4 linked regions of the Homo sapiens genome follow. The protein of the gene in region 1 interacts with the protein of each later gene in a pairwise test. Each region holds a gene or a part of one and is shown on either strand. Other genes may lie near its edges.

Region 1 (3,500 bases):
GGTCCTGATGTGGGAGGATGCCCGGAGGCCAGTTTAGCAGGCCAGTGGAGGGAGATCAGATCTGGGAGATATTAGGGTGGGACCAGGCCTCTAGGAACATTGTGGGCAGGGAGGCTGTCTGAGCAGAGGGAAGTAAAGCTGGTGGCGCTACTGCTGTCCCTCTGGACCTGGCCAAGCTGAGGGCTCTCTCCTTTGATTTCCAGCTTCAACTCAGTTTTCTCAGTAAGCAGACTCCACAGGCATGTAGGCGCCCCGTGCCATTTTTCTTTTAATAAGAAGCAGCTGTGCCGGGGATGCTGGCGTTTCCAGCTGCGTTTTTATTTGGCCTTTGGTGATGTGTCCCTCCAGGGATATGTGGATGAGCCGCGGGGGCACTGCCTGTGCCTCAGTGGGTGCTGCACCAGTGCACATCGGATGCCCGTTGGCTCCTGTCCCTGACAGATGGAGGGGCACGTGATGTGTTCCTTGGGCTGGTTTGTCCCTTTAACAGATCTTATTAGTTTAGAGCCACTTGGAAATGACATCTTCTGTTTCCAGTGACTTTCCTTTTGGGCAAAGACAAATTGCATCTTGAAAAGGCCATACATGGCCGGGCATGGTGACTCACACCTGTAATCCCAGCATTTTGGGAGGCCGAGGCAGGCAGATCACAAGGTTGGGAGTTTGAGACCAGCCTGGCCAACATAGTGAATCCCGATCTCTACTAAAAATACAAAAATTAGCCAGGTGTGGTGGCGCATGCCTTTAGTCCCAGCTATTTGGGAGGCTGAGGCAGGAGAATCACTTGAACCCAGGAGGAGGAACTTGCAGTAAGCGGAGATCACGCCATTGCACTCCAGCCTGGGGGACAGAGTGAGACTCCATCTCAAAAAAAAAAAAAAAAGGAAAAAAGGAAAGGCCATGCAAGGCTCGGTTAGGGTGGTCTGCAGTGCTGGGCCTGCTGGAATTGGTACAGTCCAGAGGGATCTGTGGGAATATGGAAGGCTTGGTTCTGCCACACACCAAAAAAGTGACCTCACTTCTCTGGGCCTCAGTTTCCTCATCTGGAAAATGGGAACATGGTGGTCTCTGCCTACTGGGAGTGGACTGAGAATCACGTAGCAAATTGTTGTGAAACAGGCAGCATTTGTGATCTCGTTGGTTGGCTTTTGTCTCCTTTTATCTGGGATCAGGACTCTGATGACAGGTGTACGTTTCTTTTCTCTTGCTCTGTCCCCCAGACTGGAGTACAGTGGCGTAATCATGGCTCACTGCAGCCTCCAACTCCTGGGTTCAGGTGGTCCTCTCACCTGAGTCTCCTGAGTAGCTGGGACTATAGGCATGAGCCACCACACCTGGCTAATTACAAAAAAATTTTTTTGGCAGGGAGCGATGGCTCACACTTGTATTCCCAGCACTTGGGGAGGCCGAGGCGGGCGGATCACGGGGTCAAGAGATTGAGACCATCCTGGCCAACATGGTGAAACCCTGTCTCTACTAAAAATCCAAAAATTAGGTGGGTGTGGTGGCTCTCACCTGTAGTCCCAGCTGCTCGGGAGGCTGAGGCAGGAGAATCGCTTGAACCTGGGAGGCGGAGGTTGCAGTGAGCCGAGATCGTGCCACTGCACTCCAGCCTGGGCGACAGAGCGAGACTCTGCCTCAAAAAAAAAAAATTTTTTTTTTTTTAGAGACAGGGTCTTACTTTGTTGCTCAGTTTGGTGTCAAACTCCTGGGCCCAAGCGATCCTCCTGCCTTGGCTTCCCAAAGTGGTGGAATTACAGGTGTGAGCCGCCGAACCCGGCCTTAGTTTCTTTTTCCTTAAAGAGAAGGAACTCATCATTACTCTGTTGATATAAATGGAGTGCCTATCAGTGCAGGCAATGTTCTTGCTCTGGGGATACAGCCAGGACCAGGACATGCAGGCACGCCCTGTTCCCCAGATCCTGAAATATCGACCAGAAGTTGTTCCTGGTTCCTTTCTAAGTGGGAATCATGGCTGCAAACAAGTAATTGGCCGTGAGAGTTATTTACACACATTTTGTGTACGGTGATGAGAAATGGGAGAAAAAATGCCCAGCATCGGATCACCAGAGGTCAGGAGTTCGAGACCAGCCTGGCCAACATGGTGAACCCTCATCTCTACTAAAAATACAAAAATTAGCCGGGCGTGGTGGCAGGCGCCTGTAATCCCAGCTATTCGGGAGGCTGAGGCGGAGAATCGCTTGAACCTGGGGGACGGAGGTTGCGGTAAGCCGAGATTGCGCCGCTGCACTCCAGCCTGGGCAACAGAGCGAGACTCTGTCTCAAAACAAACAAACAAACAAAAACCAATGATAGGGGATTTGGCCAGATAAGCGTGTCCAGACAACCGACTATCAACTCGCTACTCAGAGGGATCTAGAAGAATCTTTAATGACCCAGAAAGCTGCACAAGACCTGTTAGGTACCAGATGAAATGGGCTGTGGGATCCTGTCTTGTTTAAAACGATTGTATTTGCTCAGTGAAAAGACCGGAAAGACATACTCTGCCCTAACCCCACATGTGAATCGTCTCCCCATGTGATTCTTGGTTTGTTTTTGCTGGTTTGGGGATTAGGTTTATAATCAGGAAGACAGATTTCTCCAAAGCTGCGCTCTAGGCTGTCCAAGTGCTTTTTCAGAGTTACTTATTGACGGATAACAGCCCTTGATAGGTTCATAACATTGAAATCCCCTGGTAATAACCTGGATTGTTTCTGGATGAGGGCGGAAGATGGCCTTGGGGACAGTTGTAGATTTAGAGAGGAGGTTTTCTTTTCTTTTCTTTTTCTTTTTTTGTTTTTTTTTGAGACGGGATCTCACTCTGTTGCCTAGGCTGAAATGCAGTGGCGTGATCACAGCTCACAGCAACCTCAACTTCCTGGGCTCAAGGGATCTTCCCACTTCAGCCTCCCAATTAGCTGGGACCACAGGTGTGCGCCACCACCCCCAGCTAATTTTAAGAAATTTTTTGTAGAGGTGGGGTCTCATTATTTTTTGCCCAGGCTAGTCTCAAACCCCTGGGCTCAAGTGATTCTCCTGCCTCGGCTTCCCAAAGTGCTGGGATTACAGGCAAGAGCCACGGCACCCGGCCTAGGTTAGATTTAGAGTTTTCAGAGTTGGCTTAGGCGGTAGAGGCTGGCCTTTGAATGGAACCCTGTCTCGCTGTCGCTCTCAGCGTTTATATTTGGCTCAGAGCCACATCTGCCAAACTTCTGCCCGATTTGAATGAAAGTGCTGAAATTATAGGCCCCTCGGCTGCTGAAAAAAAGTGAGAACATCATGTAAACCGTAATTTACTGGGATTGCCAACTACAAGCTGTAATTAAGCCCTTATTGTGTTAAAGCTTTGGAAAAATCCAAGCCAATAATGAGATATTTATAGGGCATTAGCTACAATCTGAATAAAGGGAAAATGTGGCCCTGCGTCTGAAGCAGGACTGCAAAGAGAGGAAAGACGCCTGCTTCCGGGTGCGTTTTGGGTTTCTGTGAATATTGGTAAC
Region 2 (3,500 bases), on another chromosome or scaffold:
GTGTGATGCCTACGTTACTGATTTTCCACTTGTGAGTCTCTTCTTTTATTTAAAATACAGTGATATATTCTCACTTATTAAAGACTAAATTTTTTAAAACTTAAAGTTGATGGTAAATATAAAGGAAATATATATATTTATATATGTGTATATATTTATAGTTTAGTAACACTGATCATAATATTTACTAATTGCCAAAATACCTTAAGTTTATGAGATTTAGAAATGTCTAAAGTTCACTCAGGAAGGATGCCTCTAATTTCTTATATCCTAAACACGAGAGCCAATGTGAAGGAATAAAATGTGCTATAAATATGTCAAGAATAATTTCCTTTTAAACAGTTATAACTTATATTGGAAACAGTAGTTTTTAAGTCTTGTTAAGGTATGGTCATATGCTGGAATAATAGAAATCTAGTTCTGCTCTTTTCAAACATTTAGGTTTGATAGTTATTTTACGTTGGTCTAAAGAAGCCAGTAAATAGTACCCCTCTTTCCTACATGAGTGTGACAAACTGAGAAGCAAGCAAGGAGTAAGACAAGCAGAAACCCAAAATATCACTTTGATTACTGATAGAGGCTTTGTGGAGGATATTGCTTCATGTCAGAGTAAATGGTCTAGCACCAAACCCCAGAATTGAGTGGCCACCCCACACCTCCAGTCTCAGCAGTACGGAGCCCAGATAGGCTTCCTGAGGTACTGAGCAAGCTGGGGGCCTGTGGGCTTCTCACTGGAGCAGCAGAACCCTTACTCTTGGCCATTGGGTTGGCTCTAAAAGAAGAAAAAGGAAAAGGCTGTTTATTTATCCTTCTTAAATATTCTAATCATATAAATTTCCCTGCACCTTCCCAAAAGTGATGATTAAGAGGAGAGAATCCAGGAGTCAAACACTAATGGGGCTCTCTCTGCTTAAGAGGAAACTTGAGTAGCTCAAGAAGCATTTCTAGGAATCATTTGAAAGGAAGCTCTTTCAGAGCTCACTTTACTTTTTAGATGGCTTAGTACAGAATTGAGAATTCCTATTATAACCATAGATTGTTGTTTTCATTGTTTAGTCCTGGATAATTTTGGGATTACCAAAATTCACGAGAGGCCAGAATTCACGAGAGGATAGTATCAGTTAAGATGTCTTATGTACTAGATTATATTGTGGCTTTCATTGATTTCATTATTAACAGTCCCTAATTTTTTTTTTTACAGGATCTAGATATTGATCCAAAAGATGCAAATAAAGGCACACCTGAAGAAACTGGCAGCTACTTGGTATCAAAGGATCTTCCCAAGCATTGCCTCTATACCAGACTCAGTTCACTGCAAAAATTAAAGGTTACTACCTTTTCTGTTTATAGCTACTAATGGAAAACTTTATGAAACTGGAAACTTATTTTGGCATAGACCATAGATATGCTGCCTTATTATTAAAGTAGAGATAACCAGTCTACAGAAGGTCCTATCAGTGACCCTTTTTATATTCTGTTTCCGATGGTGACCAGAGGACTTTATGTGTGCTTACCCTCCAGAATGCTAAAAAATTAGTAACATTAGAGTATATTCTTTTTTCTTTTTTTAGAGACAGAGTCTTAACTCTGTCACCCAGGCTGGAGTGCAGTGGCATGAACATGACCTACTATAACCTCAAACTCCTCAGTGCATATGATCCTGCCACCTCAGCTTCCCAAGTATCTGAGTCTACAGGCACATGCCACTACACCCAGCTAATTTTTTAAAACTTTTTGTGGAGAAGGGATCTCACTATATTGCCCAGGCCAATCTCAAACTCCTGGCCTCAAGAATCCTCCCTTCTTGGTCTCCCAAAGCACTCGGAGTACAGGTGTGAGCTTCCACTCCCAGCTCCATATTCTACTTTTAAATATGTTCAGATTTTCAAGTAATCATTTCCTAGTTCTATGACTAGACATATAGCAAATTAGAATTTTTTTTCCATTTTTTTATTTCTAGTTGACTTACAAATGAGAAGCTAGTTCTGCACATTGAGTGTTCTAATGAAAGCTTTTAATTTGTTCACAACTACATGACCATAGAATGTATCAGCTAAAACTCAGGGAATGGAATGGGCATGATTGAGAATTACACACATAAACCTGTTGTCATCCTGTTCGGAGCTCATCTACTTAAAATCCTTTCTTCTCTTAAAAAGTTAGCCCATTATCTGATTCAGTTATATTTTCCACCTACGATTATGGATTACTATAATATTTTAAAAACAGCTTAAGCTTTTTTTATAAAACTGGTATAAAACCAGGTTTTTTTTTTTGTTTTGAGATGGTGTCTCTCTCTGTCGCCTAGGTTGGAATGCAGTGGCGCGATCTCAGCTCACTGCAACCTCCACCTCCCAGACTCAAGTGATTCTTGTGCCTCAGCCTCCCGAGTAGCCAGGACTACAGGCGCACACCACCATGCCCAGTTAATTTTTTGTATTTTTAGTAGAGACAGGTTTCACCACGTTGGCCAGACTGGTCTTGAACTCCTAACTTCAAGTGATCCATCTGCGTCATCCTCCCAAAGTGCTGGGATTATAGGCGTGAGCCACCACGCCGGGCCCAGATCATTTTTTAATTAAAAGTTAATACCCCATCTCTAATAATAGGGAAGGGTAAGTTTCCTAAGCTGCACTGCTTGGAAAATGTTTTCCCTGTTCATCTAGAGTGTAAGAAAGATCTCTTTGACTTTGACTACTAACAGTAGTAAGAACTAGAAATTCTAAATGGGTTGTAAGTATTGCATGAAGGAAAAGGAAGATAATGATAGCTGGCGTTTCTCAGTTTCAGGGAGATATAAAGGATGCCTTGAGGATTTGGAACCTGGGAAAGGAGAGTGAGTGGATTTTTGGGGGTGGGGGTGTGTATGTGTGAATATTTTCAGATTGATATATATTCACTGTTGATGCCAATAATAAACCAGATTTTTTTCCTTTTCAGGAACATCTAGTCTTCACAGTATGTTTATCATATCAGTACTCAGGATTGGAAGATACTGTAGAGGACAAGCAGGAAGTGAATGTTGGGAAACCTCTCATTGCTAAATTAGACATGCATCGAGGTTTGGGAAGGAAGACTTGCTTTCAAACTTGTCTTATGTCTAATGGTCCTTACCAGAGTTCTGCAGCCACCTCAGGAGGAGCAGGGCATTATCACTCATTGCAAGACCCATTCCATGGTGTTTACCATTCACATCCTGGTAATCCAAGTAATGTTACACCAGCAGATAGCTGTCATTGCAGCCGGACTCCAGATGCATTTATTTCAAGTTTCGCTCACCATGCTTCATGTCATTTTAGTAGAAGTAATGTGCCAGTAGAGACAACTGATGAAATACCATTTAGTTTCTCTGACAGGCTCAGAATTTCTGAAAAATGACCTCCTTGTTTTTGAAAGTTAGCATAATTTTAGATGCCTGTGAAATAGTACTGCACTTACATAAAGTGAGACATTGTGAAAAGGCAAATTTGTATATGTAGAGAAAGAATAGTAGTAACTGT
Region 3 (4,268 bases), on another chromosome or scaffold:
TCAAGCTTCAGATGCCCAAGACTTATTTAATGTGTAAATCTTCACCACTACAATAACCACATGGTTAAACGATCACCACTTCCATTAGCAAGCTCAAGCCTAATAAGTGATCTCCTGGGACTTCAGCACAGAGGTTTTCTAATTTTATTCCTCCACTCAATGTGGCTATTCTCCCTTATCTATTCACGCTGGCAAAGCTTCTAGTTAAACTGGAATTAGTAACTATTTGATGATAATAATTAACATATACTGAGTGCTTCCGATGGCGCAGTTAATTCTTACAGTTGATAAAAGTGTGGCACAAAAAGGTTAATCAAGTAGCAGAGGCAGGATTTGAACCCAGGAATTCTGGTTCCAGGGCCCGGATTCGGAGTTACAAAGGTGAGTAAACTGAAAAGAGTCCTACTTTTATTGTCATTGCTTTCTAATAAAAATTATTTTTTTCTTCCAATTGTTTAAATCTCTTCTCATTCTCTATTTAAATATTAGGCGTTCATTTAAATATTAGGCGTCTACCTTACAGTAGGACATCTTTAAACAACGTAAAAAAGGAAAGCTTTGTCTTCACCTTCACACATACCGGTCTGCCCATAAATTTTGCAATCCAGTTCTGCCTGATTCTAAACTGCTTGTCTCTTGAAGCGAATGCCTTAAAAAGTGACACTGGGATCAGGATAGTTATCTCCATCCATCCTCCCTCAGAAAAACAACTATATTCGAGTAATTCTTGGGACCACTGAGAACAATACACAGACCTTTGGGTAACTTCAAGACAAAAAAGGCAAAAAGTCGGGGAGAAGGTGTGGGAGGATGATTTTCCCCTTCTAAACGTAAGGTATAAAAGGGCTCAGAAAGCGGAAAAAGAACCCTAAAAAGCAAGGTGCGGGACGGCGTGAGGGACCACACATTGGGCGCTCCGCCCAAGGGGTCCGGCTCCTTCTCCGCGGCGATGGCGCGTCCTTGGGCTCAGCAACCCTCCTGAAGACACCTAACCTCCTCCTTCTCCAGCCTGCCCCTCTGGGGCCTGCGAGCCCCGTCCCGGGCCGGGGGTCGGAAGCCGTGCCATGTAGGACCCCGAAAAGGCCCCCAAGCTTGGCGCGGAAGGCGCCGCCAGTGACCGGCTGCGGCTGGGGGCGGAGGCCGGCAGTTGCTCGGAGCTCCGGCGGGTCAGGAGGTGACGGGAGGAGGAGGAGGCAGGAGGAAGAAAGGGGGGTTGGGAGGTAGCGTCCGGTAGGTCTGCGCAGACAGCGCTGCCAGACCTCTGACTCCCCCAGTCCTGCCGCCGCCGATAGCCCCACAAGGCGACATGGGAAGTCCGCCGGAGCAGAGGGGAGAAAATTCAAAACGAGTCTACTCAACCTCGTCTTGGCTCCGAGGCCCCGCCATGCAGACCCCTCTAGTTTTTTACTATTAAAAATAGTGCTGCAACAAACATTTTATACATCTATCTCTGTATATATGTGTAAGTATACTGAAAATGAGTTCCCAGAATTAGAATGGACAAGTCAAAGGGCATACAGATCTTAATTTTGTTAAATTCCATCAAACTGTTTTCTATTATAGCCCCAAGAAGTTCCCCTTGACTGTTTCCTTACATCCTCATATTGTTTTATGAGTCCTAATAATTAAATATCCCTTTGTTGTGTGTTGCCCTTATATTTCCCATTGTATGTTTGATGTTGTTTTTCTCTTACTATATAAAAGTTTTAGATTGTTAGGTAGTGACATTTATCAATCTTTTTGCTTATGAGAGTTTCCAAATTTCCTGACATGCTTCGAAACACCTTCTCACAATGAAACATAAATACATAAATTCATCCATAAATGCATAAATGAGACAGATCTGTAAATATTGATAGAAAACAACTGGACACACAGTCTTAAGTGTAAAAGCCAATCACAGAAGAGTATGCACAATGTTACAGGTGTAACTACATATTTGCGTATGTCTAAAACACCTGTGGAAGGTGGCCTGGAGATGGGGAGAAATGGGTAGATGGAGGATTTTCACTCTTCATTCTTTTTACTATTCGAACTATTTTTTTATGTATTATCTATTCAAATGAAAATGTTTAAATCTTATTGTTTAAAAAGCAACCTCTATCATGTTTGCATACAAAAAAGTCTCCCTTTTCACCTACATTTCATTCCCTACCATTTAAAGCTTAACACATTTAGAATGTAGTATAATTAGTGAGGCAGGGATCCAGTATTGCCTTCTACCAAATAGATCTGTTGAATTTTTAGGTTTGTTAAGAGGCAAAGACCAAGGGTGGAGAGGAAGGAGTGAGAGTGCCAGGTGAGGAAAGTCTAAAATCTCTCGACTTAATATGAGAATGGTGGCCACGGAAGGCTAAGAGTCTCTAGTGCCAGGTGTGGGTTATACACACATCTTCTATGCAATTACCGTGACAAGCACCCAGGGTGTGAGGTGAGGTGTACCTCCTAGCTTGATGCTGCTGGTTCAAGTCCCAAATCAGAGAGGGGAAGCCAAAAAAGGAGCCGAGAAAGATGAGATGCTTCGCACGGTTTTTAAAGTAAAGTCGGAACATTCCTGACCGACTAGGCAGCCCCAGGCGCTCAGGTGGGAATCACTGCCCAGCACACAGAACCCAGAGTCCAGCGCGGCTGTCACCGGCTCTAGGCTGGATCTAAGCGTCGGACCAGGAGGCCGCAGTCAAAATCTGTTCTCCTACCTGTGTACGAAACCAAACTATTCTCGTCGAAGTGCTTTCCCAGGCTCCTAAGACGCAGCTTCCATACTCGCCGCGTTCTCAGCTGTTGGTCGTATCCTAGCAACGGCCCTGGCACCACCTCTTCCTGCCGGAGCACGGCAGGGGTGGGAAGGAGAGGAGCCAGAGGCGGGTGGGGGGGAGGAGCCAGAAGAGGGCAGCGGGGAGGGGCCGGGAAGGAGGAGCGCGGCAGGGTAGGGGGAGGAGCCAAAGACTGGGGGCGGGGCCGGGAAGGAGGAGGGCGGCAGAAGAGAAGGGGATGAGCCAGAGGCGGGGAGGTGGGGCCGGGAAGGAGGAGTGCGGCAGGAGAGAAGAGGAGTAGCCAGAGGCGGAGGGGCGGTGTCGGGAAGGAGGAGCGCGGCAGGAAATAAGGGAAGGAGCTAGAGGCGGGCTGGGGGCCGGGGTCTGGAAGGAGGATCGCGGTAGGGAAGAAGAGGAGCCAGAGGAGGGGGATGGGGGCTGCAAAGGAGGAACGCGATAGGGAAAAGGGGGAGGAGCCAGAGGCGAGGGGGCGGGGAGAAGAAACATGGCAGGAGAAAGGGGAGGAGCCAGAGGCGAAGAGACAGGAAGAGGGACGCGTCAGGGAGAAGGGGAGGAGTCAGAGGCGAGCGGGCGTGGAGGAGGGAAGCGGCAGGGAGAAGGGGCGGGGCCAGAGGCGAAGGGGCGGGGAGGAGGGACGCGGCAGGGAGAAGGGGAGGAGCCAGAGGCGGAGGCTGTTACCAACTGGCTACCTAGATCCAAGTGAATCAGGACACTAACTTCTCTCCAAGATCTTTTACACTTGTGAAACGGCACAGCTCTCTAAACCAAACACTGACAGCAGTTTAATTTTACAGATATAAAAAAAATCCGAGTCAGAGAAATCATCACGATGAAGTCAGAGGCGAGAAACTGTCAGGTGCCTACTTGCTTTTGTTAAACTAACAACTTGGCTCTCAGCTTCCTGGCAGCCAAAGAGAAAAGGGAGATAGTAGCTATCAAATAATTCTGCTTAGAAGAACTTTTGTTAATCACTAAATTAGTTAATAAACTAAATTTTGTCTAACAACAAATTCTTTTTTTTTTTTTTTTTTCTAGTGTATACAGAGTCTTGCTCTGTCGCCCAGGTTGAAGTGCAGTGGTTCGATCTCGGCTCAATGCAACCTCTACCTCCCTGGCTCCCGCGATTCTCCTGCCTCAGCCTCCTGAGTAGCTGAGATTACAGGCGCCCGCCACCACCCCCGGCTAATTTTGGTATTTTTAGTAGAGATGGGGTTTCACCATGTTGGCCAGGCTGATCTGGAACTCCTAGCCTCAAGCAATCCGCCTTCAAAAGTGTTGGGGATTACAGGAGTGAGCCACCGCGCCCGGCCTATCAATGAATAAGAAAACTTTTAAAGAACCACAGGATAGTATTGGAGGTCAAGTCAAGTATGTTCCTCTTGGAAATTTAGTAACAAACTACATGTTGCTATCTCATAATAGCAGCTAACATTTATGAAGTATTCATTGTCATGAGGCACCGTACATAGATTTCTAATTTAATCCTTACAACGA
Region 4 (4,128 bases), on another chromosome or scaffold:
GCCAGGTGCAGACTGAGTCTAGGTGGTTTCCCTGGAGAAAAAAAGCGGGGGGCCCTGGAGAACAGGGGTAAGAGACTGAAGAACAATAAAGAGGTCACGGGGTACGTTCCCTTTCTGACATCCATCGCATCCTGAGCCCAAGGTCACAGGAGAGGGTCGCATACTGCAGATGGAGCTGAGGGAACGGGGGGAGAGGCAGGCGGGCCCTGAAGGTGCAAGGTCGTGTGGGCCTCGGGACAAGTCAGGGTAGAGGGACCTGGCTCCCACGACCCTCCCTCTCCGCAGCCCCGTGGAGGCCGCACCCCAGAGCCTCCAGCATCATCCCTGGGCCCCTCTGCGCTCCAGCCCTCGTGTCTAAGCTCCCCGGAGGCGTTTTCTCTCCGCTCTCAGCCTCTGCTCCCGCGCTTGTGGCTGTCCCTGGCCCTGTCTCTCTCAGACTGTCCCTGGGCATATGTGTCTGTCTCACGATTCCTGCCTCTGTTTTGTCTCATCCCTCCCTTGCTCTCCACCGCAGTCCTGGTTGCCGTCCATGTCTCATCCCGACCCCTTCTGTCTCCATGCCTCCCTCACTCTCTTTCTCGTCCCCCTGTCTCCCTGTCTCCTCTTGTCTCTCTCTTAACCTCATCTCCTGTCTCTGCCCTGTCCCCGCTCCATCCTGTCTCTCTCTTACCCTCATCTCCTGTCTCTGCCCTGTCCCCGCTCCATCCTGTCTTTCGCTGTGTATGTTCCGTCCTTGTCTCCCTCTGTGTACCTGTATCTCTTGTCCCTGTCTCCATCACTGTTTCTGCCCCTTTCTCTCCCGGTCTCTGTTTCCTCTGTCTATCCACGTCCCTTCCCTGTCCCCATCCCAGGCTCCGTCTCTTCCCGGTCTCCATCCCCCTTCCTGGGCCGCCTCCGCAGTCTCCGCCGGGATGGGACCTCGCTGGGGGCGGGGCTGAGGGGCCAGATCGGAATAACTCGGTTATCAGAGCGAATTGAATTAACTTCTTCACACGAGCGCCGCCAGGCCTGCCTCCCCTCCCTTCCGCGGGGCCGCAGGTGGGGAGGCCCGGGAAAAGGGTCGGGACCCTCTGGCCTCGGACGCTGTGTAGAGACCGAAGGTCTGGTCCGGATTGGGGCAGGATAGGGACTCCGGGGATAGGGTCCCGCGCATCCCAGCTCCACACCTCTGAGCCCTAAGACGGCGGCGGGGACCCTTCGGGGTGGGGGTCGGGGCGGCTTTGGGCGGTGTCTGGGCCTCCTAGGCCCCGCCCCTTCGGAGCTCGCCCCGCCCCGCCCCCCTCCGCGGGGTCCTGCGCGTTAAAAGGCGCGCGGGCCGGGCTGGCTGCACTTGCGTTGCACCCGGGCTGAGTGCGGCCGCGACGGGGCGGGCGGACTCTCGGGCGCTCAGAGCTGGCCTCGGGTCCTCGGAGCCTGGCGCTCGAACCTCCCTTCCGACCTCCACCCGGACCCCGACCCCGACCCGGCCTGGCCCGGCCCCCGCCCCCGCCCCCCGGGCCGATGGACTACTCCTACCTCAATTCGTACGACTCGTGCGTGGCGGCCATGGAGGCGTCCGCCTACGGCGACTTTGGCGCCTGCAGCCAGCCCGGCGGCTTCCAATACAGCCCCCTGCGGCCCGCTTTCCCCGCGGCAGGGCCGCCCTGCCCCGCGCTCGGCTCCTCCAACTGCGCACTTGGCGCCCTACGCGACCACCAGCCCGCGCCCTACTCGGCAGGTGAGCGCAGCCCCGGCCCAACCCTCCCTCCAATTCCTGCAGAATCCCTGGGCCCGCTCGCCAAGTGAATGCGACTGTCCCCCTCAGCCGCCCCCATTCCTGCCTTGGCCAGACCCTCCAATGCCCCGAGAGACCCCCAGAATACGAGGTTCTCCTCCGCAGGAATGAGCCTCACCCTCTCATCTCTCCTGTTCCTTTTTCTCGTTGCCAAATCTCTGTCTCGTGCCCTTCAGGTCAAGGAAATATATCCCCATCCAGCTCTGGGCCCCTTACCAGGCCTTCCCCTCACCACCTGCAAAGACTGACCACTAAACCTCTACAAGCGCTGGATCTTTGAAAAAGGCTCCCAGCCCAGCCCTATCACCACTTATCACCCCACCCCATCACCGCTGCCCCACGAGATGCATGACCCCCAGCAAGGACCTCTCCAGGCAGCTGAGCTGCCCAGACGGGAAGCTTCCTAGAGCTCGCGTGGCCATCAGGCCCCTCCTGCCCTGTCTTGGACCCACGCTGCCTGGGACCGAACCCTTCTGTAGCCACCAAAACCAGATCCCGTAGCCCGCAATAAAGGGGCCCGGGTTTTTAAGCCACTTGTATTTCCCCATTCCCCCAGACTCTCCCAGCTAGAGTTCTGTAGAACCCGGAAGCAGCTCCTGCATCCCCAAGACTTTAGATCCAAGTCCCTGTCCAAACCCTCAACCTCACTGAGCTTCTCAGTCATCTCAGCCCTCTGATTAGAGTCCCAGCCTGCCCTATGTAATCTTATCGCCTTCCCTCCTGGGAAGACTGCCGGGGACCCAAGTAGAAGACTGGGGCCTAAGGGCCAGGCGCGGTGGCTCATGCCTGTAATCCCAGCACTTTGGGAGGCCAAGGCGGGTGGATCACTTGAGGTCAAGAGTTCAAGACCAGCCTAACCAACATGGTGAAACCCCATCTCCATTAAAAATACAAAAAAAAAAAAAAATTAGCTGGGCATGGTGGCCCACGCCTGTAATCCCAGCTACTTGGGAGTCTGAGGCAGGAGAATCGCTTGAACCTGGGAGGCAGAGGTTGCAGTGAGCTGAGACTGTGCCATTGCATTCCAGCCTGGGTGACAGAATGAGACTCGGTCTCAAAAAAAAAAGAAGAAGAAGAAGAAGAAGACTGGGCCCTAGGCTGGGGTTTGGGGAAGAGATACGAGAAATGAGAACCTGGATTTGGAGAAATGAGGCCCAGGGTGGGGAGATTGGGTACCCTGAGCCAGATGAGGGTAGGGATTGGGAAGAGGGGAGACAGCCTCCAGAGATACAGGGTTTTGAGACCAGAGAGATGGGGATAAGGTACAGAGAGATGGGAGCAGAGATGGAAGCACTGGAAATCCTAGGAGAAATGGGGACTCAGGGTTGGGGAGATAGAGATAAGTATCAGGCGATGGGGACCAAAGAAGATTAGAAATAGAGATGACGAAGATAAGAATACAAATGGGGTGCTGGAGACAAGAATCAGGGGAGATGGAGGCCTGGATGGGACAAAGATGAGATTGGAGACCCCTGGTGAATATGAAGACTTAAACCAGGGTTACAGACAGGGAAGGGAAGTACTGTCAGAAACACTACCTATGGGGCAGTGGAGACTGGGATGGGTATAGGAAGAGAGTTGGGGGGCAGTGTTGGCTTTGGAGGAGATGGGACATGGAGAAGGTGCCTGGGGAGGAAGAAGGAGGGCAAAGAGAAGATGGAGGAAGTCTTCTCAATGGGCGCAAAGAGAAGATGGAGGAAGTCTTCTCAATGGGCACAAAGAGAAGAGTGGCTGAGAAATGGAAAGTTGAAGAGAGATTCAAATGGAGGAAGATTAGGAAGAGGAGAGGGGGACATCTAGGGGAGAATGGGGGTCAGGGGAGTGGGGCAGAATTGAAGAAATGAGGCTTGGGAAGGGGAGAGGTGGATGGGTGGAGGGAGCCAAATCTGTATACAGCTGAGAGCCGGTGGGAAGGCTGGTGGTAGGGCTGAAAGGAGGGCCGGTGGGAGGGTCTCTGTTGCAGAGCCTTGGCCCAGAACTGGTTAGTGGGAAGACTGGCAATGCTGATGAGACCTGACAGACATCCAGGGCCAGGGTAGACAGAGGGGACAGACGGGCTGAGAGACAGACAGGAGGGAAGGGTCGGAGGCACGGTTGAATGGGGGTGCAGGGGGAGATGGAGGGAACAGGGCTTGGGAGGAGGGCGACGACGGGGGTGGGGTGGGGGAGGGAGTGTCTTGGCTGGAGTATTGGATTATGCTTTCCCCTTGGCCGCTCTTGGGGCTCAGGTCTCCCTGATCTCCCTCCGCCTTTATCCCGCCGGCTCCATTGAGTAATAGGGAGGACGCTCGGCCCCAGGCTGCCGGGACCAAGACGAGGGATCAGGCCAGGGACGGGGGAGGCGTGTGATTCCC

Evidence for each region.
Region 2: the proteins of DNM2 (region 1) and MALT1 interact in binary tests that used the Homo sapiens proteins (3 or more experiments, as listed by UniProt).
Region 3: the proteins of DNM2 (region 1) and IQUB interact in binary tests that used the Homo sapiens proteins (3 or more experiments, as listed by UniProt).
Region 4: the proteins of DNM2 (region 1) and PHOX2A interact in binary tests that used the Homo sapiens proteins (3 or more experiments, as listed by UniProt).

Annotation. Positions count from the first base shown.
Region 1 is NC_000019.10:10,724,579-10,728,078, forward strand, and holds part of DNM2 (dynamin-2), read left to right. Parts: intron 1-3,500. UniProt on the Homo sapiens protein: Catalyzes the hydrolysis of GTP and utilizes this energy to mediate vesicle scission at plasma membrane during endocytosis and filament remodeling at many actin structures during organization of the actin cytoskeleton.
Region 2 is NC_000018.10:58,744,465-58,747,964, forward strand, and holds part of MALT1 (mucosa-associated lymphoid tissue lymphoma translocation protein 1), read left to right. Parts: coding exon 1-31; intron 32-1,201; coding exon 1,202-1,327; intron 1,328-2,940; coding exon 2,941-3,378; 3' UTR 3,379-3,500. UniProt on the Homo sapiens protein: Protease that enhances BCL10-induced activation: acts via formation of CBM complexes that channel adaptive and innate immune signaling downstream of CARD domain-containing proteins (CARD9, CARD11 and CARD14) to activate NF-kappa-B and MAP kinase p38 pathways which stimulate expression of genes encoding pro-inflammatory cytokines and chemokines.
Region 3 is NC_000007.14:123,531,796-123,536,063, forward strand, and holds the start of IQUB (IQ motif and ubiquitin-like domain-containing protein), read right to left. Parts: upstream 2,801-4,268; 5' UTR 2,697-2,800; intron 1,399-2,696; exon of another isoform or gene 569-1,398; intron 1-568. UniProt on the Homo sapiens protein: Adapter protein that anchors the radial spoke 1 (RS1) complex to the A microtubule of outer doublet microtubules in axonemes. The triple radial spokes (RS1, RS2 and RS3) are required to modulate beating of the sperm flagellum.
Region 4 is NC_000011.10:72,241,377-72,245,504, reverse strand, and holds the start of PHOX2A (paired mesoderm homeobox protein 2A), read left to right. Parts: upstream 1-1,328; 5' UTR 1,329-1,500; coding exon 1,501-1,717; intron 1,718-4,128. UniProt on the Homo sapiens protein: May be involved in regulating the specificity of expression of the catecholamine biosynthetic genes. Acts as a transcription activator/factor. Could maintain the noradrenergic phenotype.